Linked DNA regions of Homo sapiens: region 2 is linked to region 1. The links come from fine-mapping of genetic effects on gene expression. Tissue or cell type: gastroesophageal junction. Region 1 holds a variant in brackets; the other region holds the start of a gene. All regions are shown on one strand. Distances are from middle to middle.

Region 1 (16,160 bases):
ATGCTGCTGGGTAGCTGCTGATAAAGTGTTTTTGTTTTCTGTGAAAGGAGAGCAAGGCGATGAGCTTAAAGTGTGCTTATGTGAGCTGAGGTCAGAGAATGAATCCTTGTTCTCGTCCTCAAAGACGAGTGAAAAGGGCCAACCTTGTAAGCTCTTCTTCCTCCTGGGAATTCAAAATGCAGACAGAAGCCAGTCAGCCTCCTCAGGCCGTTCTTCCACCATTATTGTCATTAATCATGTTAGGTGACTTCCGCCAACCTCTGGAGTATTGCCTTCCAGAAGGAGCATAATTTTCCAGAATGACAGGAATAATATGTTAATCGCCTTCGGCGTGCTCATGATGATCACAATGACAGTAATATCAACTCACCTGTAGGATCATTTACAGCCACCTGTCCTTCCTGGAATAGCAGCAAGAATCAGGAGAAGGGCCCAAAATGCTTTTGAGGAGTTAAGACAGAGTAGGGGCAGCTTCCCAAACCTTAGCTTCTTTTCTTCAAAGAAAACATGATAGGTTCCATTGTGGAACTTGTCCCCCAATGTAACCTAAGTTCTAACGAGCTTGGCTGTTTTGTTTTCTATTCTGCTACAAAAAGAAATGGCAATGTAGGAGTGAGATGAATTGCTAGAAGCCAGCACACTGAAAGTAGCAAGAAGTGACTGCTAGTCACAGAGGAGAGGATTAAAAACTAAAAAATGGCCGAGCATGGTGACTTGCGCCTATAATCCCAGTACTTTAGGAGGCCAAGGCTAGAGGATCGCTTGAGCCCAGGAGTTGGAGACCAGGCCTGGCAACATAGCAAGACCCTGTCTCTACAAAAAATACAAAAATTAGCCAGGTTTTGTGGTGCTGTCCTGTAGTCCCAGCTACTCAGGAAGCTGAGATGAGAGGATTGCTTGAGCCTAGGAGTTTGAGGTTGCAGTGAGTGGTGATTGTGCCCCTGCACTCCAGCCTGGGTAACAGAGCAAGGCCCTGTCTGCAAAATATAAATAAATACATACATACAAAATAAAAACTGAAAGACGACCATTACGAACAACAACGAGTGTGAGACAGCACTCACAATGAGGAGAGGCAGATGGCCCGAGCAGTTTCACTTGTTTCTGTGTGACAAGTCAGGTCAGGAAAGCCTGTTACTGGTTATAACTCTGTGTGAGCAGGAAGTTACTGGAGGTTTAGCACATTCTATTTCGGATGACATCTCTTCAAAGGGACCACCTCTCAAAGCCCCTAGTGAGGAAAAGATCAGGCTTAATTCATTTGGAGAATTAGGTTTTGACATTCTTTTAATCATGCGCCCCAAATTCTGTAAGCATAGGGCATAGAGAGTTGAATCAGTGCCTTGAGCCAGCCACAGGGATAAGGAAGGTGTTCTTGTTAAACTGATGCTGGCAGAGGGCCACGGTCCACCCTCTCATTGACCATGGTTGCTGGACAAGATCAGTGTCTGAGCAACAAGAAATTTGACACTGCACTGGGTGCTGCCCCTCCAGGAAAAGGCACCCACCCGCAGCAAGAAGGTGCTGCCAACAGCCTCATCGTCCCTATAAACAGAAGGTTCTAATCACGATAAGTACGCTTGACCCTTGGCTTCCTTTGGTGGCTGTCTTTTCATTTAGTCTTTGTGTAGCTATTTTAAAACCAGAACCAGTTTACACTAATTTTCTGTGGGGAGAGAAGTGCTGCCCATACCTTTTGATTAGGAGGATTTAAAAACAGGTTTGTTTGTGAGGAAGCAGTTCAGATGGTGGGACATTACAGCCAAGGACAGCCTCCTGCCTGGCTAATGTGGAGGTGGCCGCCCAGCTGGTGATCTCAGAGGCTGATTAGAGCTGCTAACTCTAACCTGGGGTGCTGTCCACCGTCCTCTGAGAACACAGGCTGAGATGGGGCAGGGACATCAACCAAGTTCACAGTCTTCCCCAGATGATCACAGTGCAGGCCTCTGAGCCTAGCAGTGTACGTGTCCCTCGTTTGCCGTCGCTGCCTGAACCCAGAGCTCAGGGGCCATTTGGTAACATTGCGGCCCAAAGTGGAGGCAGCTTCTACCTGGCTATCCCAGAGAGCTGTAACCAAGGATCCAAAGTCAGTAGGACGAGTTCTGCAGCATTCACACGCCTCTGTCTGCCCGGCACAGGAGGCCTCGCCCCGGAAGCACACGTTGCCATCTCTTCAGTTTTTCCACAACCTCCCTGGAGTGGGTCGCCATAGCAATGGAAGGGCTGCTCCAGGCCTGTGGCCCAGGCCTTGCTCACAAATTTCGCAAGAACGGCGCCACCTTGGTTCCCCAGTCATCCCCCTTCTCCCCGTCCCCCTCCCTTCATAACCTTCTGATATCTTTCGCTTTAAAACCTATCTCAGGTTCTTAAGCAGATGGCTGCCAGGTGGGCCTAGGTGTGTTCACAAACTTAGTTTTGTTCGGAACCTGCAGTGCCGACAAGGAGTGAGGCTGAATGTGAGAAGCAGGTAATTGGCCCGGCTTCCTGGGAACTGGGCAGGGATGGGGCTAGCCCCACCCTAACTGACAGACAGGGCTCCCTGGAGCCAGGGTCCTACCCTCAGGGACACCATGACCAGCTGCACAGGTTGCATGCTGCACAACTCCAGTGGATTCTGTTTACGTAGTTGTTGACTGTGAAATGTGTCTCTGGAGTTCTATAATCCTGTTGCAGTCCTAAAGTGTGTACTGAAATCCAGCTGCTCAGCCATCTAGGAGGTTGAGGTCTGGCCAGGTGAACTCTGAGGAAAAATGGTGCTGAAGGGCAGTCAGGCTGAAAGGATAATGAAAGCCCAGAAACCCATGAAACTTGGGTTGGCCAGAAGGGGAGACCCTTTAGCCAGGGTCACCGAGCCTGGGAGGCGAGGGGGATCTGGGTCAGGCCCTGGGCCTCAGGTCTCCCTGGACCCGTCTATGTCTGTCTTCTCCATGGAGTGAACAGACATGGGGTGCATGGTGCACCCACAAGCACATGGAAGAGGGGAGGCCCTCACTGGGGGGCCGGAATAGGACCCCTGAGAGCCCTATGAGTACCTGCAGCTCCACTCAGTTTCTGGGCATGGCTGGGGACTGGTGGGTACAGGGAGTGACAGATGGGGGAACCCCCGCCCCAAAAGTCTGCCCTCTCCAGGAGTGGCATTCAGAATCCTCCAGTGCGGACCTTAGCCCCGTCCTCATCCAGGTGGGGTGCTGAGACCCCGAGAGAGGCATGAACTTGCCCAGGGTCACACCACAAAGTAGAGCACAGAAGGCCTTGAATTCCCTTTCTCCTGAGCCCTTAGAGCCTGGAGGGAGGCTGGGTGGGGGCAGGGTCAGCCCCTACAACCACTGAGGTCTTGTCCCCTGACTCCCACTGGGTTCTCCTCTGTGGATGGCCCCAGCATTTGCAGGAGACAGAGGTGCCAGTGTCCCCCTGGGGGTGCTGAGATGTGTGCCAGGCCGGAGTCCCTAAGCCCAGGCCGGTCCCCCACGTTCTAATGAATGTTTTTCCTGGTCCCCTCACCACCCCAGCTCACTGACTGACAGGCAGCCACTCTCCAAAGAGTCCCTGAACCATGCTCTCGAGCTCTCAGTGCCAGAGAAGGTGAATAATGCCCAGTGGGATGCTCCAGGTAAGCCAGCTGGGGGTGGTAGGGTGGGGCAGGGCGGGAAACTGTGCTGTGCTGGGTGTGCTGGAGGGGTGGGTGGTGTGGGGGACCACCACACAGAACTGCGGGAAGGAGCAGCTGGGGATCTTGCTGGTTCCACGCTCCCAGGGACCCCACCAAGCCCCTTCCTTCATGGCTGCCATCAGGGCCAGGCGTGATGGAAAGGAATGAGGGATGGGGAGATTTCTTCTTCAAGAAAGCTGGGAAGAAGAGAGGCCAGAGATAGAGAGACAGGTAGGACATCATCTGGGCCCAGGCCTTGGGAACTTGGGGCTCCAGCAAAGGGTTGCTGAGGGACAGGAGAAAGCCCAGATAAGCAATGCCTTGGGATTTTTGGCCTGGTTAACTGGGGCAAGGGGCAGGCAGACGGGTGCAGGCTAGAAAGGTTTGTTTTGGAGGCTTGAAACATTACATGTTATCTTCTTGATCTCCACCATCAAATAATTGTGCCTTAAGGAAGGCAGAGTTATTTACTCTGACTCTGAAGAGTCATCAAAATGATAATAATAATAATAATACATCTTTTGTGCACTTTTATTGGCTGCACAACAACATTGTAGCAACAACAGAAATTTAAAAACAAAAAGAAAACAATAGATACCCAGCACAGAGGGTCACTGCTGCCAGACCAGCTGCCGCTCTCCCAGGCCGAGTGTCTTGGGTGGCTTTGGCAGGGATCTGGCCTGAGCTGTGGGGGTGGGTGTTTCCTCTCATGCCCCCTGCCCTCACCTCAGAGATAAAGGAGAAGGGACTGGGCCAAGAAGAGGACCAACTGGTTTCTGAGAATGGTTTGAAAGACACCGGAGAGAGGCCAGGAACAGGGACAGCTTGGTCCCGGGAGCCTCCCACGTTCATCCTCCCAGGATTCCAAGGCATCTTGCTGACTTGCTGAGCCACCTAGGGCAGGTCCCACCAACTGGCTTAGGCTCAGACACCCCAGACTTTATAATCCCTTCTCTGGGGTGCTCAAAGAGCAGGTGTTGGCACCAGGGGCCTGGGCCACAGCAAAACCGTGGAGCTCAGCAAGTCCTGAGTATGAGTGATGGCACAGGCATTCCTGCAATTCAAGGGGCAGGAAGGGAGCCATTTGTGGGGGAGGCTCCGTGTCCCTTGGAGCCCCAGAAAAGCATCTGGCATCCCGAGGGAGAAACACATAATCCCCAGCCCTGCGGGCCTCAATGGCTTCATCTGAATGGCTGTCGTCTGGCAGCCGTGCAGCAGTAGACACGCAGCATGGGCAGGTTTTAAACAAGCAGGGTAGGGAGTCCCAGAGAGGGTCCCTTCAGACAGGGCTGGAGTAGAGGCATCTGAGCAGCCAGGGGCCAGATGAGGGACAGGGAGAAGGCCCTGAGTTTAATGGCGAGGCAGGGCCTGGGTGGGCAACTGTAAGGGAGGTGACAAGGCCATCACGATCTAGTGTATCAGGACTTTGGGAAACTGGCAGGGACGGCCAAGGTGGGCGTGCCCCAGGATCCTCCACCCTGTGCACTGGGCTGTGAAGGAGACTGAGACGGACAATCTTCTTTCCTGCCCTCAAAGAACCCCCAGTCTGAGGGCAGACAGGTCCTCTGTAAAGGGCAGGGACAGGCTGAGGAAGGAGGGCTCCCTCTGGGAGCTGTGGGGGCAAGGTGGGCCTCTTGCATTAGAAGGACCTGTGGCTGTCCTCAGAACCTCAAGCTCCCTCTAGGCCTAGAGGTCTGGACTGAGTGCTCTGCCCTTGGGAGTTCAGCTTCCAGGGCTGGTGACAAAGAGAAAGGGGAGGTTTGGGAGGGGCTAAGGAGGCACCATGGTTGTCAGCAGGCGCCCAGAGCGGAGGCCACCGAGGGACCCCAGGTGCTTCCCAGGGCAGTGCTAAGCAGGCATCATGGGCTCCCACAGACCTGGCTCGGGGGCCATGCTCTGCCCAGCACCCTGTCCTGCAGCCCTGGTGTCCTTGGGGGTGGAGGGGGAGCCTCTGCGCTACAGCGTGGGTGAGTTCCAGATTCTCATGGATGGCGTGTCCACCGCGTGCCAGGCCTGGAGCGGAGCTTGGACTCTTTCTCATTGACTCCCTAGAAGCTTGGGAGCCCTGGGCTCTAGTCTCTGTACAAGAAGGGGGATTGGGGCTGGCACAGATTGGGAGGGGTCTTGAAGCTGCCCTTTCACAAAGCATTTTTGATAAGATTGGGAAAAGCCAACTATCCCTATCAAAGACTGCTGGGGAGGAGGGATTCGTGGGATTAGGAGAGCTGAAAGTCCTCCTTCCTCACACAGTTGTGCCCTGAATAAGAAGAATCAAGCCCTGTGCTAAGGGACTTTCTTGTATTCTTTCCTTTTATCTTCATATCAGTAGCAGGGAAAACAAATCTATCACTCCTATTTGGTAGAGGAAATGGAGCTCAGAGAGGGTTAGTGATTTTCTCAGAGTCACACAGCTGGTAAGAGGTGGAACTCTTAACTGGCCACACTGCCTCTTTGGGACCTAGATAGCATCATGCAGTCTGGTCTTCCAGGTCTGGCCCCCACAAGTCTGGCCAGCCCCTGCCTCCCTTTCATCTAACTGCAGACACTGGCAGCCCCTCTGGGGAGCTCTTTGAGTCTTGTACACAGGAATCAGGGTTCACTCTGGAGCCCTCGGAGGCTCCCAGATCTCTTTGAGGTCCCAAAAAGTTTGAGGTCCTGAGCTCTGGTCCCCAGGCTGAGCTCTGAGCTCTCCAGATGGCTGTACTCCCAGG[A/G]AGCAGCTGTGCGAAGTCAGGCCACCGAGACACTGGAATCTGACCTTCACACAAAGGCAGCCTTGTACTGGGCCCTGGAGACACATTACTTTTTACTTTCTAGGCCTTTCTAGATAGAGCTTGAAGCCCAGCAGGAGAAGGGCAGCATCGAGACCACAGAGAGGGGAGGGCACCCGGGGTGAGCAGCTGCTGGGGATGAAACTGCTGGAGGTGCTGGCCAGGGCTGGCTCCCCACCCGCTTTCTCCCTAGGAAACTCCCACACCCACTAAGGAGCTTTTGCAATTGGGAAGCTAGGTGCTCAGCCCCACTTGTCTCCAGTCCAGTGAAGCCCTTTGTGGGTCAAGGGATTTGCTGGGCCTCCCTCGGTTCGTCACTCCCACCCTTCCCAAATGTTGCAAGGGGTGGTGTTTCAGGCTGGAGCTATGCGCTAGGGAGCCAGAAAGAGGCCTGATACAATGCTTGTCCTCAAGAAGCTCACAGTTTGAGGCCGGGTAGCAGGAGGAGGCCGTTGGGACAGTGGAAGGCAAGAGGACCTGCCTGTCCCCGCAGCCTCCGATGGGGGCCGGCAGGAAAGGCTTTCCAAGGGTCAGAGGAAATGAGTGCCAGTGATTCCTTCTCCATGATATGGAAACAGGTAATCCCGGCCCTGCCAGCCAAAATGAGTGGAACCTCTGGGGGTCCTCAGAGAAACATTTTCCGCAGGGGTCAAGGCACCCACCCAGCCCCTGCCTGGACAGCCTCAGACACTGCCTGGGTGTCCCCTCCTAGGACCCTGCCATGTGGGGCAGGTCTGGGGCAGGCCAGCCCAGGGCTTCTGGCTGGGATGCCCGGGTTCTTGCTCAGACCCGGCTTCTCTCCAGTGGATGGAGACCCAGCCTGAGGTCTCCTGCACATCTCCTGAGCATGCTCACCTTTACAGGGGCAGGTAAAGCCCATCTCAGGTCCCTTACCCCGGTGGTCCAGGCCTGGACAAGTGGAATCCTAGAGGCAATTTTAAAAAGCTAAAACAATGACTGTGGAGAAGCGTATAGAGAACATCTTGTCTACCCCAATTGTAATTCAGATGGGGAAACTGAGGCCCAGGGTCATTCTGCTGTGGTGGCCAGAACTCAGAGCTCTTCAGTCCCCATTGAGAAGGCCGGGAGTGGCAGCTGCAGGGGCCCTCTCCCCTCAGACACAGAGGAACTACTGAACAGCTGACAGACCCTTCTGTGCTAGGTCTTGTCCTTATCTCTCTTCATGTCCTGGGGCCAATGTGGCCTCTTCCTCTTCTGTATCCCTGAGAGTGCCTTGCATTGGGCTGGCCCTCAGCACAGGGTCCCGTGTTGGAGAGAGGGGCCCTCCTGGGGCTGGTTCCTGCCTGGCCTTTGGAGGAGGGCCTCTGGGGTCAGTGCCCTGCAGGACCGTTCTCGGAGAGAGATCTGTCCTAGGCCTGAGACCCACCTCTTCCTCAACACCAGTTATTCCTCCATCTGCACAAGAAGCTACTTTCCTGCAGCCTTTCCCACAGACCACGGAAAACAGCCCCAGCCTCCCGCTCTCTGCTCTTGTGTTGTTTTCCTTCCCGGCTAATTGAGTGACTGCCTTTGCTCTTTAGACGCCTTTATTCCAGAACCCCAGAGAACACAGCTCCCTGCCTGCCCAGTGGCCCCCAGCATAAAGGGTGGATTGATAAGATACAAGCCAGGGTCAGGCCAAGACAAGTGGCAGAGGGAGGAAGCGGCAGAGGGAGAGGGAGGCGGCAGAGAGTGCCAACCTTGCCTGGGAAAGCCTACCCCCCAGCTCTCAGCTGACTTGGCACTTGGTGGGCGGGCAGTGTGCTGGTGGTGCTGCATTGGCAGCAGGCAGCGAGCTTTCTGGGTTCTCCACTGCGCTGTAGATCTAGTCGTTGGTTGCCTTTTGGAGTCAGCTCCTGTTGGGATCTGGGTGCCTTGCTGGGCAACAGAGACCTTGATTGTGTCCTGGCCCCGTTCTTGGCTGTTACTACAGCAGTGATCTTAGTTTGGGCATGGGACAGAGCTGATGGTTGCACTGATCTTAGTTTGGGCATGGGACAGAGCTGATGGTTGTGCCCTGTTGGTGGAGCACAAAGGGGAGATGAGGACTACTTTAAGGACTGGCAGTCATCCTGATTTCCTAAGTCTCTCGATACAGATCTTTTCAGTGTGGTCTATGCATTTCTGTATGCCCTTTTTTGCTCCCCTTTTCACTTGATGTTATACTGTGAACATTTCCATATGTCATTAAATATTCTTTTTGTACTTTATTTTAATGGCTGCATGGGAATCCATGATACGGCTCTACCATAATGAACTGAATAAGAGACCAGTCCCCTGTTGGACATTCGGGTTGTTTCCAATGGCTTTGCTAATAGACACGTTGCTGTATGGATATCCATCTCCACATTCTCGCTGTACATGTCTCTGATTGCTTCCCTTGAGTAACTTCCAGAAAGTATGATTGCTAAGTGCAAGGATGTTTCTGTTTCAAGCCTTTGGATATATATTGCCAGTTGCCCCCAACAAAGCTGTACCAGTTCATGTTCTGCACTGCACTGCACCTTCCAGACAGTGGATATTGTCTGTTTGCCTGATTGTATTTTTGCTGCTTCAAGTTCTTTCCTTTTAGGAGAAACCTAGGGAGAGAGGGAGGTTAGGAGATGAGTTCAGATGGCTTCAGGAGATGTGGGTTATTGTGAGGAAAGGCAGGGAAGAAAAGAAGCTTAGAAAGAGGCTAGGAGGAGGCCGGGAGTGGTGGCTCACGCCTGTAATCCTACCACTTTGGGAGGCTGAGGTGGGCAGATCATGAGGTCAGGAGATCGAGACCAGCCTGGCCAACATAGTGATACCCCGTCTCTACTAAAATACAAAAAATTAGCTGGGCGTGGTGTCACGCACCTGTAGTCCCAGCTACTCGGGAGGCTGAGGCGGGGGAATCGCTTGAACCCAGGAGGCAGGGGTTGCAGTGAGCCGAGATAGTGCCACAGCACTCCAGCCTGGTGACAGAGCAAGACTCTGTCTCAAATAGTAATAATAATAATAATAATAGGAAAGAACATAAAAGTAAAAAGAAAAAGCCTAGCAGGGAATGGGAAGAATGGACCTTCCTGGCTCCCTGCTCAGGTGACAACCAGCATTGCTGCAATTCAGTTTCTCCCTGCCCTACTGCCGCCACCTGCTTCTGTGCACTCCACTCACTATGCTGTGACTTCCACCACCCCATTGTCTCAGCTCAGCCATCCTGATCTCTGCAAGTGGCTTCCAAACTCTGCAGGAGAGACTCTAATTTTCTGTCACCACCTACAGGGAGCACTCCCACTGAGCAGTGCTCCTGCACAGCAACTTCATGAGCCTCTGGCCAGGGCTTGCAGCTCCGGTCTCATGCATGTTGTCGGGGTCGCAGGGCCAATGTCCAAGGCTCAACAGCTGTGGGCAACCCCTTCTGACCGTTCTGCCTTGCATTTGGCGTACCTTGCCAGTAGCTAAAACCCAGGCCCAGCCCTTCTAACTCATTGTCCAGAGACTTCTTCTTCTATAGAGAGGGAGATTGGCAGAGGACACGGTGTGAGCAGAGCCCACGGGTGGGAACACATGGACATGAGAAGAAGGGGGAGGATTGCACACCCCAGGCTAGAAGATGCATCTGTCTTCCCTTCTTTCAGCTCTGAAGGGCAGGAGTGAGCTTGGCAGCTGGCACCCAAGGCTGAGGCCACTGAGCTGTGGTGGGCCCAGGTCAGAAGGACAATGAGCAGGGCAGGCCCTACCTAAGTCTCTCAGGGGTGCAAGATGGGAAAGGAGGCTGGCGTGTCCTGCTTGGGTAGATACCCGCTCTGTGAGCCTGTCTCTGTGCTTAAGCACAATGTGTCCTGTGTCCTCATTGGCCTCCCTGGGGGGCAAGGGTGAGGTGGGGGAGAGATGAAGGCCTGAGTCCTCTAGACACACAGTCACTGGGTCTCCAGCCCTCCTGGGACTAGGGTGGGGCAGAGTTCAGCTCATTCTTCCCCAAAGAAGAGGCCCCTGGCCTCTGCTGGAGGCCGGGTTGCTGCTGGTAGCCAGGACCCAGAGAGGAGGGAATCTGACTTCCAGAGCTCCAGGGTGGTGGGAGAGGCAGCCCCGACCATGACCCCATCCTCCATTAGGCTCAGGATGGGAGTCTTTAGTGAGGAGGCAACACGTGGTCCTTGAAGAGCGGTAAAGTGTGGGCATGTGATGGAGGGAAGGGCATTGCAGGCAGAGTCGCAGCACAGGCAAAGGCACAGAGACGGGGAACCAAAGGGAACTGGGAGCAGTTCAGGTTGGCTGTAAGGAAAGGTGTATGTTGAGGCTGGGAAAGGTAAGCGAGCCCCTTGGGGAGGGCCTGCCTTAGAAGCCCTGGTATAGACGTCTCCCTGTGGTCAATGAGAGCCATCGGGGGCTTTTGAGCAGGTCAGACCTGGATTTAGCAAGGTCACTCTGGGAGTCTCAGGAGTGTGGGAAAAGGCCGGTGGCTGGAGGTCATGGCTGCCCAAGGTCACCCAGCCTGAACCTGTCACAGGACTTGGCGGGAGGCATGATAGTCCTTTCCCAGAGGAGATGGGAGATGTGGTGCCGGGGTCTTCCTTGAAGTTCACCGTGAGAGGCAGCACCCCTGTGGGAACAGCAGACTTGGGTATGGAACTGTGGGGGTTTGGATGCCAGCTCTGCCACTCAACTCTTTAGTTGGGAGGTGACAGTGGTGATGGGCAAAGAATGGCATGGCGCATGGCAGGGGCTCAGTAAGCAGTAAGCAAGAGATGATCGGGGCCTCAGCGAGGGCAGGGGCAGCCTCCTTCCCACCAGAATCTCCTCTTCCAGCTGGTCTAGGGGCTCAGACAGGTCCTGCTGGCTCAGCTGAGCTTGTGCAGAGAAAGGGCTGGGTCATGCAGCTGGCCAGGAGGCCTTGTCACCCTTCCCAAGGGTGACAAGGGGTCCTCCAGAGCTAGGGCTCTTGTCCCTGTCATGAAACAGCTGGACTAATAGGAGACTGACATTGCAGACCTATGAACCTTCCTTCCCTTCCCATGCCTCATTCCCTCCTTCCAGGAAGGATATGAGATGACCTGACACAAAAGCACAGGCTCCATGGAAGAGGAAACAGGAAAAAGACAGAACCATGTAGCTGATGGGAGAGGAGAAATTAGGTGAAGAATTCTGTCCAAAATGTCCATCAAGATTTTAAACACTCTTTTCTCTTGATCCGGTAAACCTCCTTCTAATAATCTAAACCGAGAAGGAGGGCTGGAGGCTGGATACCACTTGAGCGTCCTTCAGTGGAGAGTGGCGGAGTAAATTATGAGAGGGCCCAACCGTGGAGTACAACGCAGCCACACAGCATGCACACAATGAGGCAGGCATGTTAATATCACCAACGTTAAAGATGGATGATTTGGCTAATGGCTAGGTTTGATTTGATTCATATGATTTAAAACATATATTTGGCTGGACGCAGTGGCTCACACCTGTAATCCCAGCACTTTGGGAGGTCAAGGTAGGAGGATTGCTTGAGACCAGGAGTTCAAGACCAGCCTGGGCAACATAGCAAGACCTTGTCTCTACTAGAAAAAAAAAAAAAAAAGCTGGGAATGGTGGCATGCACCTGTGGTCCCCGTTACTTTGTGGAATGGCTAAATTGATCTAATTAGCATATGCGTTACTTTACATACTTCACACACCTGGATAAATTTTTGTAGAGATAAGATCTACTTTTTGTAGAGACAAGGTCTCTCTATTGTTCAAGCTGTCTGCAACTTTTGGCCTCAAGCAATCCTGCCTTGGCCTCCCAAAGTGCTGTGATTACAAGCGTGAGCCACTGCACTTGGCCTGTAGTTTTTTGCGTAATAGAAAAATATGGCCAGGCACAGTGGCTCATGCCTGTAATCCTAGCACTTTGGGAGGCCAAGGCTGGAGGATCGTTTGAACTCAGGAGTTCGATACCAGCCTGGGCAACATGGCTAACCCCCACGTCTCTACCAAAAATACAAAAAAAATTAGCTGGGCTTAGTGCTGTGCATCTGTGGTCTCAGCTACTCAGGAGGCTAAGACTGGAGGATCTTTTGAGCCCTGGGTGACAGAATGAGACCCTGTCTCAAAAAAAGAAGGAAGGAAGGAAGGAAAAAGAAAGAAAGAAAAGAAAAGAAAAGAAAAATATTGCGCTGTTCCATGTCTCTATAAAAAGCAGAGAAACAAAAGGTGGACTCCAAGGGCCATGTGTCTAAAGGAAAATGAGAGGGAGCTCATTTCTTCCTGGAAAAGAAGACTGCCTCTGGTTTCATTTGCAAATCCTGGGCCACTTCATTCATTTATTATGTATTACTATACATTATTTACTATGATGCTGATACACTACCCGCCTGGTCCCATGAGCATTTTGGGTTTGCTACCTGTGATTAATACATTAATAAGATGATCTCTCTCCCCTGCCACCTTATTTTTCATAAAAAGCAATTGCAACAACAAAATAAAACCTAAGTCCTTGTATGAATATTTGTAGAAAGAGGGCCTATCACTTTTTCTGTCATAGACTGCTAAATTGTTTCATATTTCTTGGAACAAGTATGCATATTTTTGTCATTAAAAAGAGATTATAGGCCAGGCACGGTGGCTCATGCCTGTAATCCCAGCACTTTGGGAGGCCGAGGCAGGCAGATCACCTGAGGTCAGGAGTTCAAGACCAGCCTGGCCAACATGGCGAAACGCCATCTCTACTAAAAAATGCAAAAATTAGCCAGGCATGGTGGCGGGCACCTGTAATCCCAGCTACTTGGGAGGCTGAGGCAGGAGAATCACTTGAACCCAGGAGGCAGAGGTTGCAGTGAGCCAAGATCGTGCCACTGCATTCCAGCCTGGGCGACAGAGTGAGACTTTGTCTCAAAAACAAAAAAAGAGATTATAGTGGCTGGGCACGGTGGCTCACGCCTGTAATCCCAGCACTTTGGGAGGCCAAGGCAGGTCAATCACTTGAGGCCAGGAGTTCGAGACCAGCCTGGCCAACACAGTGAAACCCTGTCTCCACCAAAAAATACAAAAAAAATTAGCCAGACATGGTGGTGCATGCCTGTAGTCCCAGCTACTCGGGAGGCTGAGACAGAAGAATTGCTTGAACCCAGGAGGTGGAGGTTGCAAGGAGCCCAGATCGCACCACTGCACTCCAGCCTGGGCAATATAGTGAGTGAGACTCCATGTCAAAAAAAAGGAAAGAAAAAAGAGATTATAAATGCTCAAGTTAAAACGTTTGGCTTGGAGATCCCAAGACTCACCTCTGCTCTTCTTGGCAACCTGGGTGAACAGGTGAATACAGAGGAGCGTGAGCTTCTAGATGTGCCCACGGGAGAAAGTCACCTTTTCTGTAGTCCAGGCGTAGGAGGAATCTGTGCCAGGGGAGGGAAGAGAACTAATAACCACTGAGAGGCAACTGGATGCCAGGCCCTGGGCATGCTCTGAGGGCCATTGCACAAGATTCTTGCACCACTTTGTGGGGGGTCAACATTCTATTTTTTTTTTTTTTTTTTTTTTTTAAAGACAGAGTCTTGCTCTATCGCCCAGGCTGGAGGGCAGTGGTGCGATCTCAGCTCACTGCAACCTCCACCTCCCGGGTTCAAGCAATTCTCATGCCTCAGCTTCCCAAGTAGTTGGGATTACAGATGTGCACCACCACCACCAGCAAATTTTTGTATTTTTAGTAGAGACAGGGTTTCACCATGTTGCTCAGGCTGGTCTTTAACTCCCGGCCTCAAGTGATCCGCCCACTTTGGCCTCCCAAAGTGCTAGGATTACAGGCGTAAGCCACCATGCGGGCCCTCTCTCTGTTTTTCTTAAGTAGCTTTATTGAGCTATAATTTATATGCCATGAAATTTACCCATTTTAAGTGCACAATTTGATTATTTTTAGCAAATTTACAGAGTTGCAAAACATCCCCACAATCCAATGTTGGGACATTTCCTTCACCCCAAAAAGATCTCTTGTGCCTATTCCACGGTCACTCCCCACTCCCACCTCCAGCCCGGGGCAAACACGAATCTGCTTTCTATCTTTTCTGCCTTTCCTTTTTCGCACCTGGCTTCTTTCACTGAACATGTTTTTGAGTTTCATCCATGTTGTAGCCTCTATCAATACTTTATTCCTTTTTATATTTTTTTAATTTATTATTTAATTTGATTTAATTTTTTTTCTGAGGCTGGGTCTCACTCCGTTGTCCAGGCTGGAGTGCAGTGGTGCAATCATGGCTCACTGCAGCCTTGACCTCCCATACTCAAACAATCCTCCCACCTCAGCCTCCCAAGTAGCTGGGAATACAGGCACACAACACCATGCCCTGCTAATTTTTTTTTTTTTTAGAGATAGGGTCTCACTATGTTGCCCAGGCTGGTCTTGAACTCCTGGGCTCAAGTGATACCCCGCCTCAGTCTCCTCACATGTTTACAGGTGCGAGCCACTGCACCAGGCCACTTTGTTCCTTTTCAGAGCTGAATAGCATTCTACTCTCTGACCACATTTTGTTTTTCATTTACCAGTCAGTGGACATTTGGGTTGTTTCAATTTTTTGACTCATAAACAATGCTGTGAAGAACATCTGTGTGTAAGTCTTCGTGGGGACATGTGTTTTTATTTCTCTTGGGTAGATACCTAAGAGTGGAGTTGTTGGGTCGTACTGTAGTTTTATGTTTAACTCTTTAAGAAACTGCTAACCTGTTTTCCCACATGGCTGTCCCATCTCATTCCCACCAGCACTGTATGAGGGCTTCTGTGTCCCCATGTCCTCATCAACCCCTCACATTTGCAGGTGATGAAGATGCAGCTGAGAGAATGGTTTGTTAGGTCAAACAGCACACAGAGGCAGAATTGAGGTTTTTGAACCCAGGTGTACCTGACTTTCTGGTCTGGGCATGGACTTTAGCAAAATGCAACAGTTAGAGGCTCTGAAGAGGCAGATCAGCGGGGTCCACCAGGCTAGCATCCCGGGATATGGGGCAAGGCTTGGAGAGGTCTGAGGAGTGATTGGACGGGGCCTAGTGGCCCTTGACTCACGCCACTACCTGAAGGCTCAGGGCTCCCTCATGGCCAGTGGCATGGGCATCCATCCCAGAAGGTCTTAACCTCTGCCATACAGAGGTGCCAAGCACCTCTCTGGCACCCTCCCCTGTCCCGCCTGCATTTCCTGCAGGCTGCCATGTATCCCGTTTGGGTCTGGATATGTCCTTGTCATCCCTACTTCCGGCCCTCCACAGGAGGAGGAATGGGCTCTCCTGTCCCAGCCCCCAGATCTTTACCTCTTTCTGCCAACCTGAGTCTGCATGCAACCTAAGAGTGTCAAAGAGGAGGAACAAGCTCATCTAGTTCATTTGTCTGCCTCAGGGAAGGACCGGTGACAGGAGAATAGGCGAGGTGGGTCTGGCCAGCAGGTGGCAGGGCAGCCCCACCTGTCCTGGCCAGCCCTCATCCCTTCCCACCATCATCATGGAACCACCACCCTTGCCCCAAGGAAAGGACGTCTCACGGGACCAAAGGGTCCAGACCACCCATCCAAGCTTCCTTTGCAAATTTGGAAAAAAGAGGAAGAAGGAAAATGTGCATTTATGGAGCACCAGCCATAGGTCAAAGCTTCTTCATATACACCCTTTCTCTTGATCCTCATGTCCACCCTGAGAACTGAGTCCTCATCTTTCCCCTGAAATTGACTCAGTGGTTCAGTGGCTTGTCCAAGTCTTGCATACTAAGTGGTAGACCTCTGTTCCCACCCACCATACACAGAGTAAGCCTCTGACTCTTAAAGGCAGGGTGGCAC
Region 2 (16,160 bases), 32 kb before region 1:
AGGTCAGGGGCAGCCAGCGTGGAAGGTGCAGCCTGGGTAGCAACAGACATCCTCAGCTGCGTGGCTCTGTCGTGATGAGATCCCTGGAGAGTCATTCAAATCTCCATTTTTTTTGCCAATGAGCTGCCTCTGTCCCAATGTCCAGAGCATTCTCAGGCCCGAGGATACTAAAAACAGCGAAAACTTTTTTTTTCTGTTTTCTTTTTTTTTTTTTTTTGAGACGGGGTCTTGCTCTGTCATTCAGGCTGAGTGCAGTGCCACAATCTTGGCCCACTGCAGCCTAAAACTCCCAGGCTCAAGCAGTCCTCCCCGCTTCAGCCTCCTGAGTAGCTGGGATTATTGGCATGTGCCACCATGCCCAACTAATTTTTTTTTTTTTTTTTTTGTAGAGACAAGGTCTCTAGGCTGGTCTCAAGCTCCTGGACTCAAGCAATCCCCCCTCAGCCTCTCAAAGTGCCAGGATTACAAGTGTAGGCCCCTGCACCTGGCAATGAATTCTAACTGGATGTTTACATACCACTCTAAGTGCCTTCAGTAGACTTAACTCACTGCAACCTCATGAACTAGGAATCATGACTCCATTTTACAAATAAGAAAACTGAAGCACAGAGAGGTTAAGTCATGTATCCAAGGTCAAACAGCTTATAAGCATCTATCTCATCCCAGATGCTCTAGAAAACAGAGCCCAAGGCAAAGTTTATGTCCTAAGGCTTTATTGGAAGTGGAATTCTAGGGCACAAGAATCAGGGAAAAAAAAAAGACATGAGGCAGAAAAGGAAGGAAAGCAAATAAATAGAAGGTAGTTGCATTTCTGAGCTGTTCTTCATTGCACAAGGAAACATAGCTCTTTGCTATGTCATGTAGGTGACCCAGACAGGTTGTGTGTGCTGCACTTTGGACCATTCTGTTGAGGGGAGAAAGCCGGGGAACTTACGGCTGTCTTCCTATCCCCGGTCTCTCCACAGGAGGGAGCCAGTGCAGAGTGAGCCATGAGATTCACTCCCTCATAAGGGAGGTGGAGAAGGGGGATCCTTCCCAGTGGCAGAGCACCCCTCGCCCCTTTGTGTTTAGTTATTCACCCTGTCCTGCATTGCACCCATCATCTCGTGGTCCTTTTTGTCTCTGCTGGTTTCAGTTAGGGGTTCTGCCCCTGGTAATCAGGACTCTCCATTTTACAGAGGAGGAAACTGAGACTCAGAGAGGTGACTTGGCTTGGGTCATGGTGCAAATCCAAAAACCAGTGTGTTCCACCCCTGCCCTATATGGTGCAGATCTGGAGAATACGGGTCACGTGGCCCTTGATCCAGGTCTTTCCAGGTGAGAAAAGAAGGTGCCTCCTCTGCAGAGGTTGCCCAGACATCTGGGTTCCCTCCCTTCCTCCTCCTTCCCTAATCCTCCAAAGGCCTCCATCCTCCGTGGTCTCCATTGCCCACTCCCAGCTCAGTCCTGGCAGGTTAGAATCCTCTATGTGCTACGTTCTTCTGCCCCTCCTCTCAGGAAAGCTCTGCCCTGGTGACCCATAGCTCAGAGAATGTGAGTCCCTGGGAGAGGAGTTTGAATCTCCAAAAATCTCTGGGTTTTATCTATTTTATTTTATTTATTTTTGAGACAGAGTCTCTGTCACCCAGGCTGGAGTGCAGTGGTGCAACCTTGGCTCACTGCAACCTCCACCGCCTGGGTTCAAGCAATTCTCCTGCCTCAGCCTCCCGAGTAGCTTGGACTACAGGCACCCACCACCACGCCTGGCTTATTTTTGTATTTTTAGTAGAGACAGGGCTTTACCATGTTGGTCAGACCGGTCTCGAACTCCTGACCTCAGGTCATCCACCCACCTTGGCCTTCCAAAGTCGGGTTTTATCTAGAGCTGGAGGATACTCTGATCCCAGGACTCACACCCCACCCACTCGATGTAGACAGGGCCAGAGGGGACACAAATGCAGCCCAGAGCCTCAGCGCCCTCTGGAGCACAAGGGTCTCCCAGCCGGGCCCCAGACTCGATGTCCAGAGCACACTGTGGTGGCTGCCGGAGGCCTTCTGGGGGCAGGGGAGGAAGGACGGCTGTTTCTGGGGATGGAGGCAGTGGCGCAAGATCCCAGTCCTGTGGAGACCTGGGTGGGTGGGAGGCGCTCTGGCCAGCAGGGGTCAGCAGAGGCCCATTGTTCTCCTGCTCGTCCTGCACCCAGAGACGACTGCGAGGCCTCAATCCAGAGCCCCAGGTGCAGTATTTTGAAATTTAAAAAGAAAAAAAAAATCGTCTCCTGGTAATACATACGCATGATAACAAAAAAGTGGCCCAGAAAAGCTAATGCTGAAAACATACAGCAATGACCCTCCCACCCAAGCCTTTTTAAAGGCTTTTAAAAACAAAAACAAAACACTTAATATCTCTTTGTTGTGGGAGGCAGGCTGATTGCTTGACCCCAGGAGTTCAAGACCAGCCCGAGCAACATGATGAGACCCCCCCCTCAATCTCTCAAAAAGAAAGAAGAAAAGGTAGTTTCATGTTAATTTCAACATGCATTGGGAAATATCTGTATATATTTATATAACAAGTTCTTCAATTGCTTAGAATAAAGCTATTTCATTTTTAAATTATAAAATGGAGTTGAAAAATAGTAAATAATGTACTATACCCCTGGGGAAACCAAATATGGCAAAACTAATGAAGGTGGTAAAGAAATTGATTGGAAAATAGTGGTCTTGATTTTTTTTTTTTTTTTTTTTAAGAGATGGAGTCTCACTCTGTTGCCCAGGCTGGAGTGCAGTGGCGTGATCTTGGCTCACTGCAACTTCCGCCTCCCGGCTTCTAGCAATTCTCCTGCCTCAGCCTCCTGAGTAGCTGGGATTACAGGTGCACAGCACCACGCCAGCTAATTTTTTGTATTTTAGTAGAGATGGGGTTTCACTGTGTTGCCCAGGCTGGTCTCGAACTCCTGAGCTCAGGCAGTCAACCTGCCTCAGCTTCCCAAAGTGCTAGGCATGAGCCACCACACCCAGCCAATTCTTGAAGTTGAAAACCAGTGAGGGCAGCAATCACTTCGATGACAGTAGAGGCTGGTGCAGAGGCATTTGGCCTTACACGCATAGCAGGCACAAACTTCCTCAATCGACAAACTCAGGTGGGCAAAACTGCAGTTTTATTTTCTGTAACTCAATGGAAAAAAAATTTTTTTTACAGCTCTCCACCCTTCCTCCTAATGGCAGGACATTTAATCTGTTGGTTTTGAGAGACAGGACCAGCTGGATTTCCTAGGCCGACTGAGAATCCCTAAGCCTAGCTGGGAAGATGGCCACATCCACCTTTAAACACGGGGCTTGCAACTTAGCTCATACCTGACCAATCAGGTAATAAAGAGAGCTCATTAAAATGCTAATTAGGCAAAAACAGGAGGTAAAGAAATAGCCAATCATCTATTGCCTGAGAGCACAGCAGGAGGAACGACAATCGGGATATAAACCCAGGCATTCCAGCTGGCAACTGGCTACCCACTTTGGGTCTCCTCCCTTTGTATGGGAGCTCTGTTTTCACTCTACTAAATCTTGCAACTGGTGGGGCACGGTGGCTTACGCCTGTAATCCCAGCACTTTGGGAGCCTGAGGCGGGCAGATCACGAGGTCAGGAGATCGAGACCATCCTGGCTGACATGGTGAAACCCAGTCACTAATAAAAATACAAAAAAATTAGCTGGGCATGGTGGCGGGCTCCTGTAGTCCCAGCTACTCGGGAGGCTGAGTTGGAGAATGGTGTGAACCTGAGGAGGTGGAGCTTGCAGTGAGCCTAGGTCACACCACTGCACTCCAGCCTGGGCGACAGAGCAAGACTCCATCTCAAAAAAAAAAAAAAAAAATCTTGCAATTCTCTTCTGGTCCATGTTTGTTACCGCTCGAGCTGAGCTTTTGCTCGCCGTCCACCACTGCTGTTTGCCGCTGTCGCAGACCCGCTGCTGACTGCCATCCGTCTGGATCCGGCAGGGTGTCCACTGTGCTCCTGATCCAATGAGGCACCCATTGCCGCTCCCGATCCGGCTAAAGGCTTGCCATTGTTCCTGCACAGCTAGGTGCCCAGGTTTGTCCTAATCCAGCTGAACGCTAGTCACTGGGTTCCACGGTTCTCTTCCGTGATCCACGGCTTCTAATAGAGCGATAACACTCACCACATGGCCCAAGATTCCATTCCTTGGAATCCATGAGGCCAAGAACCCCAGGTCAGAGAACACAAGGCTTGCCACCATCTTGGAAGCGGCCCGCCACCATCTTGGGAGCTCTGGGAGCAAGGACCCCCCGACCCAATAAGAGTTTCGCAAAAACTCGGTCATTTTCAAGTTTAAACTTAGTCAAGTCCTAGCGTCCCATTTCTAGGAATTTATCCTAGAGATAGACTAGCTCAAGTACGAACCACGCAAGGATAAGATTATTCATCACAGCTTCATCTGTAACAGCAAAAGACTGAAAACAACCTAAATGTTCATCCTACAGAGCTGTTGAAATGCATCTCGGGCCAGCCCTTCCATGGAATGCTGTACCTACCCCACAAAAAGAGAACCAGGAAGTTCTCCAGGCAAAAATATGAAAAGTTCTCCAGCAAATGTTGTCAAGTATAAGAAGACACGAAACTGTGTATGCCATATGTTAGCATTTGTATATATCCAAGATATTTCTAGAATGATGCAAAAAAGAAATTTTTAACAGTGGTGGCTCTGGAGAAAAGAAATGAGTGAAGGATGGTGGGGAGAGGGACAGAAAAGTGGGAGGAAAATTTAATTTTTACTATGAAGCCCTTTGTACTTTTTAAAACATTGTATTGAGGTGAAATTCACATAACATTAAATTCACCATTTTAAAGTGTAGGATTCATGGCTGGGCATGGTGGCTCACACCTATAATCCCAGTACCTTGGGAGGCTGAGACAGGAGGATCCTTTGAGGCTAGGAGTTCAAGACTAGCCTGGGAAACATAGCAAGACCTTGTCTCTCCAAAAAAAATTTAAAAATTAGCCAGGCATGGTGATACATGCCTGTAGCCCCAGCCACTCAGGAGGCTGAGGTGGGAGGATCACTGGAGCCTGGGAGTTTGAGGCTGCAGCGAGCTACGGTCGCACCACTGCGTTCCAGCCTAAGCAACAGAATGAGATCCTGTCTCAAAAAAAAAAAGTGTACAATTCAGTGGCATTTAGTACATTCACGGTGCTGTGCAACCATCATCTCTATCTAGATTCAAAACATGTTCATCACCCCAAAAGGAGACCCCATACCCATCAAGCAGTTAGTCCCCTTTGTACATTTTCATGTTCCACTGTATCAATCAGGGTTCTTTCTGCAAGAGATGGCCCCTTAAAAGTGGTAGGTGAAGAAAATGAAGGGACAGGTGAGGACAGTGTTAAGGGAGCCACAGGGGATGGTGAGGCAGCTGCAGGGAGGTAGACACTTCTGACCTGAAGGAGCTGGGGAGGAACTGTTCCCCCTGAGGCCAGAGCTGGCTGGAGGGGCTGCTGCTGCCAAAAGTGTGGCCAGCCGGGAGGGAAGGAGAGGAATAAAAACTCCAACCTTTCTTTCTCTCTACCTTCTGCTGTCCTGCCACCACCTGGCATTGGCCTGACAACCAGAGGCCAGAGGCCGGGAGCCCAAGGGAGGCTCACACAGGGCAGCTCTGGGGACAGAACCAGGGGAGAGAGTAGAGAGGGAATCTGGACATAACTGGCATATTGCTTGTATTTATTTTTCAAAATGAAATGAACCATTTAAAAAGTTCAGCCAAATCAGACTCCACTACAGCCTGACCTTTTCAGCACCATGTCCCAGCCTTGAGCTTCTGTTGATATATTGCCTTTGTCCTGGTTCCCAGGTGGGGTCAGCCCTCCTCGCAGTGACTGCAGAATGACCTTGTTCCTATCAGCCTCTGTTGCCAGCCCACCAACTTTCTCCTCCAGCAGCCACCTGACCCTCAGTTCACTGCCTGCCCTGGCGAGAGGGTGTGCCGGGCCTTTTTGCTTTTGGTTCCTTGAAGCCATCTTTTCTCTGTGGCCCGCGCTGAGCACTCTGGGGCCCTGTCGCTTTCTTGGGCCACCTCAGGTCCCTGATATGCTCAGACCTGGAAGATCTGCCCAAGGGAGGTCTTCTTAAGGCCCTCCCCAGGGCCTTGCTTCTGTTTGGACTCTCTTCCCCTTCCTGGTTCCCTGGATCTATAAGAATCTGAGGGATGGGGAAGGAAGGGGAGTTGGGAATGAACAACTTACACATTTTTCCGAACCTTCCCAGGCTTTCATATTGACCAAGGCTTTTGAACTTCAGAGCTGAGCATTCTATGTCTTTTTCTCTGATTATGATTCTCCTCGGGTGGGGAGACACTGACTTGTCACTTACAGTGGTGACTCATTCGATCCCTCCAATCAGCCCATGGGCAAAGGACTCCCCATCACCTTCTCACGTCCAGTTGGAGCTGGTGGCCACTTTGGCCCACCTCAGGCCATCACCCTCATGATTCAAGCAGTTAAAACTGAGGCCAGGAGAGGGCCGAGATCTGCCCAAGATCGTGGTTGAGGGCGTGTCAGTGGGAGATTCAGGCCTTGCAGCTAGACCCCAGACGACCTGCTCAGTGTACCTTCAACAGCATTAGGAAGGCAGCATTTGGGGGCCTGTGGCCTGTGCCCTGAGTTTGTTAGAAGGCAGCCCAGCTTTTTCTCAGTCACCTGCCTTCACCAGACAGCATCACCTGTGGCCCAACTGGACCTATTTCTTCTTGGGGACATCTCATAGGTATCCCCACTAACACCTCCTGTACACAATGTATATGGATTTTAATTGCGTCCCCCAGCAAATTCATGTCTACCCAGAGCCTCAGAATGTGATCTTGTTTGAAAATAGGGTCTCTGCAGATATAGTTAAGATGAGGTTCTTTGGCATCAGGGAAGGCCCTACTCCAATGACTGGTGTCCATGTAAGAAGAGAAAATAGGAACATAGACTGCTATGGTGGGAAAATTCCCAACAAATTTCATATGTTGGAAACTTAACCTCAAAATTCATATGTTGATTGGAAGTTGAGCCCTTGGGAGGTAATTAGGGTTAGGCAAGGTCATCAGGGCGGGGTCCCATGTTGAAACTGGAAACTTTATAAGAGAAGAAAGACCTGAGCTGGCACCACGCTCTTGCCCTCTCACCATGTGATGCCCTCCACGTTATGATGTAGCAAGAAAGCCCTCACCAGATGCTGGCACCTTAATATTGGACTTCCAGCCTCTAGAGCTTTAAGAAATCAATTTCTTTGTGTGTGTGTGTGTGTGTGTGTGTGTGTGTGTGTGTTTTGGTGTTTTTTTAAATTTGTTTGTTTGTTTTATTTTTGAGGCAGGGTCTCACTCTGGTTGCCCAGGCTGGAGTGCAGTGGTGCAATCATGGCTCACTACAGTCTCAACCTCCCAGGCTTGAGTGATCATCCCACCTCAGCCTCCCAAGTGGCTGGGACCACAGGTGCACACCACGGCGTGGCACCCAGCTAATTCTGTTTTATTTTTTGAAGAGACAAAGTCTTACTATGTTGCCCAGGATGGTCTTGAACTCCTACGCTCAAGCAATCCTCCCACCTTGGCTTCCCAAAGTGCTGGGATTAAAGGCATGAGCCTCCGCACCCGACCTATTTTCGTTATGAATTACCCAGTCTGAGGTATTCAGTGATAGCAACAGAAAATGTACTAAGGCATAGACACAGAGGAAAGACAGCCACGTGAGGACAGAGGCAGAGGCTGGAGAGATGCACATGCAAGCCAAGGAACACCCAGGATGGCCAGTGACCCCCAGCAGCTGGGAGAGAAGCAAAGAAAGAGTCTGCCCACAGCCCCCAGAGGGAGTGTGGCCCTGCGCACATCTTCATTTCCAACTTCTGGCCTCCAGAGCCGTGGGAGAATACATTTCTGTTGTTTGAAGCTATCCAGTTTGTGGAACTTTGTTACAGCAGCCCTGGGGAATGAATACATGGTCTTAGAGGGGAGACTTTTGGTATTCAGAAAAAGGCCTTGTCCTGTGTGAATTTCCCATCTCTTTATGGCTGCCTGAAACCCCCCCGCCCCCCTTAACATGCTTCTTTCCTTTAGAAGAAGGGACAGATCCAGGCTTCTATTCATGTGTCCCTGGAAAGTCACATTCCTCGGTTGCCTCTATCATGTCTTCAGTGCAACTGCTTCTATAGACCATGTGGCGTGGTCTCAGTGTTGGAAATGTCTCCTTCCTTCCCCCGGGGTGGGCTCCCTCCTTGGGTCTCCAGCCTCCATGCAGGACCTGGGGGAGGGGGACTGAGTGGGTGAGATCCCTCCCAGGGCAGCATTCGGCAGACCGCAAGTCAAGGTTGCAGAGTGTATGCAGCCAGGGGTAGCAGCCACTTCAGGATCTGGGTCTGGATTTGTGCTGAGAACCACTATGACCTTTTAAAGCCAGTGAGGAGGTTTTCTGGGGGCCCAGAAGCCCTGAGCCCATTGGCCAGACCTCCTGGGAGAAGCGGAGCGGATTTGCATCAAAAAGAACACTGGCTTCATTGAAATTCTCCTCATCTTGAGAGAAACAAAACCACAAAGAAAAGGAAAGTTTTAATTCTGAGAAACTTCACTGAGGAGCAATTTTTTTTGAGCTTCTAAAAATAGAGAGGAAATGAGCCTCTTTGGGTCACTCTAGTTGCCGCCTCCCCTGCCCCATGCCCACCCCCACTGCTCACTCAAGGCTAGCCTCTCTCAGTGGGTGACTGAGCTGTCTTCAGTGGAAGCCCGAGGCAGATGCCACGCAATTCTGGAGCTGGATACGGCTGCCCACACGGGGACCCCAGCATGCTGGACAGCAGAGAGACCCCACAGGAGAGCCGGCAGGACATGATTGTGAGGACCACCCAAGAAAAATTGAAAACCAGGTAAGTCATTGGTTGGGTTTCTGCACACTGCACCTGTGGGCCGAGTTCTAGACTTTGCTCTGCTGTGTGAACTTGGGCAAGCTGCTTCTCTCTCTGAGCCTCAGTTTCTTCACCTGGGAAATGAAGGGAAGGATCTGGGCGATCCGTAAGATGGAAGAACTGGTCATTTGGAGGGCTACTTAGCATGGCTAAGAAAGGCTCATCAAAGAATGAGGCACATCCCAGGGGTATGAGCTGGGGCTGCAGTTGGAGACCAGTTGGATCTCAGTTGGATGGAGGAGGAATTTTTCAGTCAAGAATGTTTCCCTGTCTCCTCAAGGGGGACTTTTGCCTGCGGGGGTCAAAGACAGATAAGTTTTGGTGGGGACCCAGAGGTTCCCGCTCCAGTTTGCTGCGTGACCTTGGCAAGTGCCTTTGCCCTCCGTGGGCTGTAGCTTCCCTGTCTGAATATGAGTGCAGTGGCTGAGGTTTCCCTAAAGCCCTTCCACTGTATATATTCCAGTAATCTGTGATTTAGAGGAAGTGGATTCAACGTATCAGGCATTCACCAATGCCCACCCTGGCCCAGGCCCTGTCCATCCAGGGAGTAGGGGATCCTGAGAAGATGAGACTCAGTCCCAGCCCTGGGATGCCCTGGCCAGAAGGCAGGAAGAAGGCAGGCGCACGCGCACACGCACACACACGGAACTCCAGGACCCCAACATCTGTGATTTGTGTCCAGGAGGGGCGCAGGCGAAGGGGCAGAGAGAAGGAGGTTTCTAACTGGGGCGCCTGAGATGGACCTTGACGGTCAGAGTGGAGCCAAGAGCAGTGGGCAGAGAGAACGACCTAACAAAGCAAGACAGGAAGTTTGGGGATGGGAGAGGTCTGGGTGGCGGAAGCATAGAACTGGGGAGGACAGGGGCTAAATACCAGGGTCCAAGTCCTCTGTAGTAATGGGGAGGAATTGCCAGTGTCTGAGCTACCAAGACTACAGCCCCTGTCCTGATGGAAGGTTATGGGGAAGGAAGATAGAGGGAAATGGGAACAGATGTTAATGCGCCTCAGAGATGCAGAGGCCCCTCCGAGGGCTGGCATCTGGGCCCTGCCCTGGGTCTCCAGAGAACCCTGCTAATCCAAAGTGGACTCCTGTTCTTCCAGAAGCAGGGACTCTTCCCTGCAAAGCCTCCAAGAGCATGAGGGCAAGCCCCTCCCTGGGCATAGGTCAGGTGCACAGAGGGTCAAGGGCCCCTGGAAGAAAGCTGGACTGACTTCCTCACCCAAGGGCAGATTCAGGATCTCCTCTGGGCCCCGGTGTCCTGGCACCTCCCCTCCTCCCTGGGGTCTGTGGGCTCAGAGAGCAGGAAGGCCAGGCGAGATGCTCAGAGGAGCACATCGAAATATGTCCAGAGGCCATGCATGATGGCTCATGCCTGTAATCCCAGCACTTTGGGAGGCTGAGTCGGGTGGATCACCCAAGGTCAGGAGTTCTGAGACCAGCCTGCCCAATGTGATGAAACTCTGTCTCTACTAAAAATACAAACAGCCAGGTGGTGGTACGTGCCTGTAATCCCAGCTACTCAGGAGGCTGAGGCAGGAGAATTGCTTGAACCCGGGAGGTGGAAATTGCAGTGAGTCAAGATCGTGCCACTGCACTCCAGCCTGGGCCACGAGAGCAAAAGTCCTTCTCAAAAAAAAAAAAAAGAAGAAAAAGAAATAAATGTGCCCAGAGCAGGGGTAGACAGGCATGAGGACAGCCAGGGCCAGGGGAGTCTTTGAAAACAAAATCAAGGTCTGCAGGATCTCAGGGTCTTCTGCTCCCTGTGAGTGAGGGGCCAAGTGGGGCTCAGGGCCACAGGAGCCTGTGTCTCAGGCCTGTGGTGAAAAGGGGTGGCAGAGGGTCCTGTGTGCCCTGCAAAGCTCACAGAGGACTGGGCTTGTTTTGCAGACATCACTGAAGGAAAGTAGGCAAACTTGAGGCAGAACCCTAGGCTTGTGCAGAGAAGGACTCCCTCCTGAAAGGGTAAATGGGTCTTGGGACCCCGTAGGGAAAGAGAAAGGCTAAAAACCCAAGAGTTGGAGTGTCAGTTCTACTACTTTCTTGCTGAGTGACTTTGGATACATTGTTTAACCTTTCTGAGCCTCAATAGCATCCTCTGTACAAATAAATATACAACGCCTGAACTTCATTGACATTGCAGAAAAATTGGGTGGATTCCATCAGCTAATGTGTATGAAAATGTTTTCAAAGCATAAGAGTTACCCATCACAGGCATAGTAACTCTCATAGCAACACTCTTAGCAGCAGGCTGGAGGTCACATGCCTTGGGTTCCAGTCCAGCTCTGCTCCTAACCCATTCTGTGACCCTTGGCAAGATACCTTCTCTGAGCCTCAGTTTCCCCATCTGTCAAACAGGGAAGCTAAACCTGCTCTGACATTCTTGCAGAGCAGCTGTGAGAAAAGAACTTAATTCTTGTAAAACATTGTTCTAAAGTCAGAGAGAGCCAGGTGCAGTGGCTCATGCCTGTAATTCTAGCACTTTAGGAGGCCAAGGAAGGAAGATTGCTTGAGTGCAGGAGTTCAAGACCAGTCTGGGCAACAAAGCAAGACCTTGTCTCTGCTAAAAATTTAAAAATTGGCCAGGCATGATAGTGTGCACCTGTAGTCCCACCTACTCAGGAGGCTGAGGTGGGAGGATCGCTTGAGCCCAGGAGTGTGAGGCTGCAATGAGCTATTAACCACTGTACTCTAGCCTGGACTACAGGGCAAGACTCTGTCTCAAAAAAATAATAAAAATAAAAAATAGGCTAGGCACAGTGGCTCACACCTGTAATCCTGGCACTTTGGTAGGACAAAATGGGTGGATTGTTTAAGCCCAGGAGTTCGAGACCAGCCTGGGTAACATGTTGAAACCCTGTCTGTACAAAAAATACAAAAATTTGCTTAAAAAAATACAAAAAAGCTGAGCACAGTGGCTCACACCTGTAATCCCCGTACTTTGGGAGGCCGAGGTGGGCAGATCACCTGAGGTCAGGAGTTCGAGACCAGCCTGACCCACATGGAGAAACCCCGTCTCTACTAAAAAAATACAAAAAAAAAAAAATTAGCCAGGCGTGGTGGCGCATGCCTATAATCCCAGCTACTTGAGAGGCTGAGGCAGGAGAACTGCTTGAATCTGGGAGGCAGAGGTTGCCGTGAGCTGAGATCGTGCCATTGCACTCCAGCCTGGGCAACAAGAATAAAACTCCGTCTCAAAAAAAGAAAAAAAAATTAGCCAGATGTGGTGGCACATACCTGTGGTCCCAGCTACTCAGAAGGCTGACGTGGGAAAATCAATTGAGCCCGGGAGGTCAAGCCATGATGGCACCACTGCACTCCACCTGGGTGACACAGCAAGACCCTGTCTCAAAAACTAGATAAATAAGGCAGAGAGATCATTGTTGTGACCATTGTGATGCCCCTTTCTGCTTCTCTGCTCCTCTGGGCCAACTCCAGGAGGGAAGGTGTATTAGTCTGTTTTCCCGCTGCTGATAAAGACATACCTGAGACGGGGAAGTTTACAAAAGAAAGAAGTTTATTGGACTTACAGTTCCATGTGGCTGAGGTGGCCTTACAATCATGGCAGAAGACGAAAGGCACATCTCACATGGCAGCAGACAAGACGAGAGCTTGAGCAGAAAAACTCCCCCTTATAATAATCCTCAGATCTTGTGCGACTTACTGTAACGAGAACAGCACGGGAAGGACCTGCCCCCATGATGCAATTACCTCCCACCTGGTCTGTCTCACAACACATGGGAATTCCAGATGAGATTTGGGTGGGGACACAGCCAGACCATATCAGAAGGGCTCTATCTCAGTCCTGCCCGTTTGCCCTGACCTTGTGGCCATGGTGGCTGCTCCTGGGGAAAGGCGGGTCTGCATTCCTCCATAGCCTGAGAGGGGCTTATCTTCCCCCTGCTTCCCAGTGTTGCAGAGGGGAAGACAGGAGGTGGAAGAAAGGGGAGGCTGAGAGCCCGAGGAGGGCTTGCACCCTGGCCTGACCCACGAGAGTTCCCTTCCCTGCCACACAAGTTGCAGGGCTGGATCCCAGTGACTGGGGCAGGTGTCCGGAGGAAACAGCCAGGCCAGGGCCAGGAGAGGCAAAACCCGTGGGGTCTGAGCTAACACTGGCCCTGCTCTGGCAGCTTGTGTTCTGTGCCCTTGAGGCTGTGGCTGTAGACCATGCCCTCCATCAGGGACACCCCTTGAGCCTGCCCAGGGCCTGGGTCCTGACCCTGGGAAGCCCTCTGTCCAGTGGAGACACCGGTCTCCCTGAGCCTAAGGAAGCCCATTGTGGAGGAAGGGCTTGGAAGGAACCTCAGAAGAGGACAGTCCATCCTGTGTTTGAAAGGCTGTGGATGCCCGGATGGCAAGCAGGGCGCTGTGCTGACCAAAGGCATGATTGTGAAGATGTTACGGGTGGCCATGAGACTGGTCAGGTTGGGGACCGGCTAACTCCTGGGCCTAGAGAGGCTGACGTGGCCAGACTAAGGGCAGCCAGGCTCAAAGAAGGAGGCAGACAGGAACCCTGGGAGGGGTGCAAGCAGCAGAAGCCTGGGGAGAGCCTGGTTTGGGGTTTGTGAATCTAGCAGCAGTGAGTACAGGCTGGACTAGGGGTGAGGTGGAGGCAGGAGGCCAGGACTTGGGAGCTCCAAGGGTCCCATCTGGCCCAGGGAGGGCTGTCAGGCTCTGAAGTGACCACACTCACTCTGGGCTCCTAGCTGACTCTCCCGGCGCTGCCTACCCAAAGACTGGGTGCAGAGAGGAGCCCCCTAAGAGCCAGGGATGTGGAACGGTCGCAGGAGGCTGCTACAAGCCCCATGAGCAAGGCTGTTCCCACTGACAGAGCTTTCCCAGGATGACAGAGAGTGCGCTCTGCCTCTCTGGGGTGTGCTAGCCTACGAGGGGCAATCGTAAGGCGAATGTCACTGAAAGAACACAAGTGTCCTTAAACATGGACTATCTGGGCTTTCTAGTGCTGAAATTCTTCCCACTCCCACTGCCCACTTCCCATTATGTAAAAAACACAGTTGTTTCATGTTTTTGTTTCTTTACTGTTTTTCTTTGTTTTTGTTAAGAATGCATTCATTTATTCAAAATTGTTTATTGTAGAATAATCAGGCATTGCGCTAAGCACTGAAGAATATAACAAAACAAAAACAAGTCTCTACCTTAAGGAGTTTGCATGCTTGCAGGGGAGACAGACATTAACAAATAATTATACAATTAAACTGTAATTGTGACAGGTGCCATGAATGAATAAAAAAAAAAAAAGGGAATATAATCAATGCCACTGAATTATACACTTAAAAACATTTCAAATGGAAAATTTTATGTTATGTGTATTTTACCACAATACAAACATTTTTTTAAAATGTCGGTAATTAAAAAAAATAGAATATAACGAAGATCTGACTTGGTCTTGAGGGTTGGTGCAGGCTCTCCTGGTAAAGCAACATTTAAACTGAGACATGAAACAGGAGTAGGAGTTGGCTAGGGGAAGAACTTTCTAGGAAATGGGCACAGCATGTGCAAAGGCCCCGAGGTGGGATGGAGCTTGTAGTGTTCAAGAGACTAAAAGCCAGTGGGAACAGGGCAGATTTGGGACTATCATGTAAAAGCCACAGGAAATCAAGGTGCTGGTGTCAAGAGCCCAAGATCAAAGGGGTCAGGCACATCCATGGAAAGCGTGAGTCTCTAGGGCAAACCAACCCTGGTCCTAGACTTCTGAGTACGGATCTGGATAACTTCCGAATGCAAGTCCGCCCAAGCCAGCGGTAGTCCTCTCAGGAGCTGCAGAGATTTTAGCCAGGGGCAGCAGAGCTCAAACTGACCTGAAGTCAGGATCTGGGCCCAAAGCTAACCCACTGTCTCCAGGCAAGCCCCTGAATGGCAGAGTACAAGGCAAGCAGGTTTTTTAGGTCACTAAGTCCAACCCACTGTATTACAACATTCACATATTATCAATCTACTCTGACCTGATTACCTCTAGGGAAGGGGAACTCACTACTTACCTCTTCAGCTCCGCAAAAGCACAGTTTCATCTAGGGCCAGTGGTGGTAGAAAAAAACCCTATCTCACACTGGGTCCTGTGAGAGACCCCTGGATCCCAGCTCTGGCCTCCTACCCAGACAATTCTGGCTCCTTGGAAAGGAGCCTGTGAGGAACACTTTAGAACAGGGCTGGGAAGGTGCTTTGGAAACTGTAAAGGTTGTGACCATGTGAAGGACATCTAGGGCCTAGCTCAGACTCTGGCCCCGAGCAGCTGTAAAATAAGAATTTAGATGTCAGCTGGGTGTGGAGGTGCATGCATCTATAATCCCAGCTACTCAGGAGGCTAAGGCAAGAGATTAGTCAATTAATCAATCTCCACCCTCACTTTCCCATAAGTAACCACTGTTCTGAACAGCCAATGTTCCAGGTGTTCTTGAGGATGGCATGCTTGGGATCACACAGAATGTTACTTGTCTGGCTCCTTGCACTCATCGAAATGTTTGTGAGATTGATCAGTATTGCCAAGTGTCTCAGTAGTTCATTCGTCTGTACGTTTCAGTAGAATTCCATTGTGTGGCTATACTACAATTTTTTTTATCCATTAATCTATTGATGGGCATTTGAGTTGTTTCCAGTTTGAGGATTTTATGAGTAAAGCTGCTATGAAATTCTTGTATAAGGTGTTTTTGTGGACATATGTTCTCATTTTCTTGGGTAAATCCCTAGGAATAGAATTACTGGATCAGAAGATAGGTGTGTGCTTAAAGAAGCTGCCAGAAGTTCCCACATCTTTGTCAACAGTGGGTATTGTTACTCTTTTTAGTTTCATTCTGGTGGGTGAATAGTGATATCTTGCTGTGATTTTAATTTAAATTTCCCTGATGATCAATGATATTGAGCATATTTTCATGTGCTTATTGGTTATTTCCATGTCTTCTTTTGTAAATTATCTTTTCAAATCTTTAGCTCATTTTGTAATTGGGTTCTTAATCCTTTTATTATTGATTTGTAGGCATTCTTTATATATTCTGGTTATATTTTGTCAGATATATGTATTGGAAATATTTTTTCCCAGTTTGTGGCTTATCTTCATTTTATTAATTGTGTATCTTTTTTTTTTTTTTTTTTTTTTTTTTGAGACAGGGTCTCGCTCTGTCACCCAGGCTGGAGTGCAATGGCATGATATCGGCTCACTGCAGCCTCTGCCTCCCAGGTTCAAGCAATTCTCGTGGCTCAGCCTTCAAGTAGCTGGGACTACA

Which allele goes with the higher level. Positions count from the first base shown, and alleles are read on the strand shown. Sizes are in standard deviations (SD) of each study's normalised expression.
For the expression in gastroesophageal junction of the gene that starts at base 8,691 in region 2, allele A in region 1 goes with a lower level than allele G (moderate effect, 0.59 SD a copy in GTEx).

What was found.
Region 2: it holds the start of ACSBG1, and the variant in region 1 is fine-mapped to the expression of ACSBG1 in gastroesophageal junction (GTEx, PIP above 0.99). The same link has a PIP of 0.9 or more in sigmoid colon, stomach, tibial nerve and transverse colon.

What each region holds. Positions count from the first base shown.
Region 1 is chr15:78,195,452-78,211,611 of GRCh38, reverse strand. ACSBG1 (acyl-CoA synthetase bubblegum family member 1) reads left to right here. Exons shown (of 14, transcript NM_015162.5): 2 at 3,510-3,610. Among named protein-coding and RNA genes, the nearest start is that of ACSBG1, 31 kb to the left of the region's middle. RefSeq lists enhancers at 3,160-3,671, 15,880-15,929 and a silencer at 15,660-15,719. The variant A/G (reference allele first, on the strand shown) is at 6,361.
Region 2 is chr15:78,227,096-78,243,255 of GRCh38, reverse strand. ACSBG1 (acyl-CoA synthetase bubblegum family member 1) reads left to right here and starts at 8,691. Exons shown (of 14, transcript NM_015162.5): 1 at 8,691-8,885. The coding sequence starts at 8,755.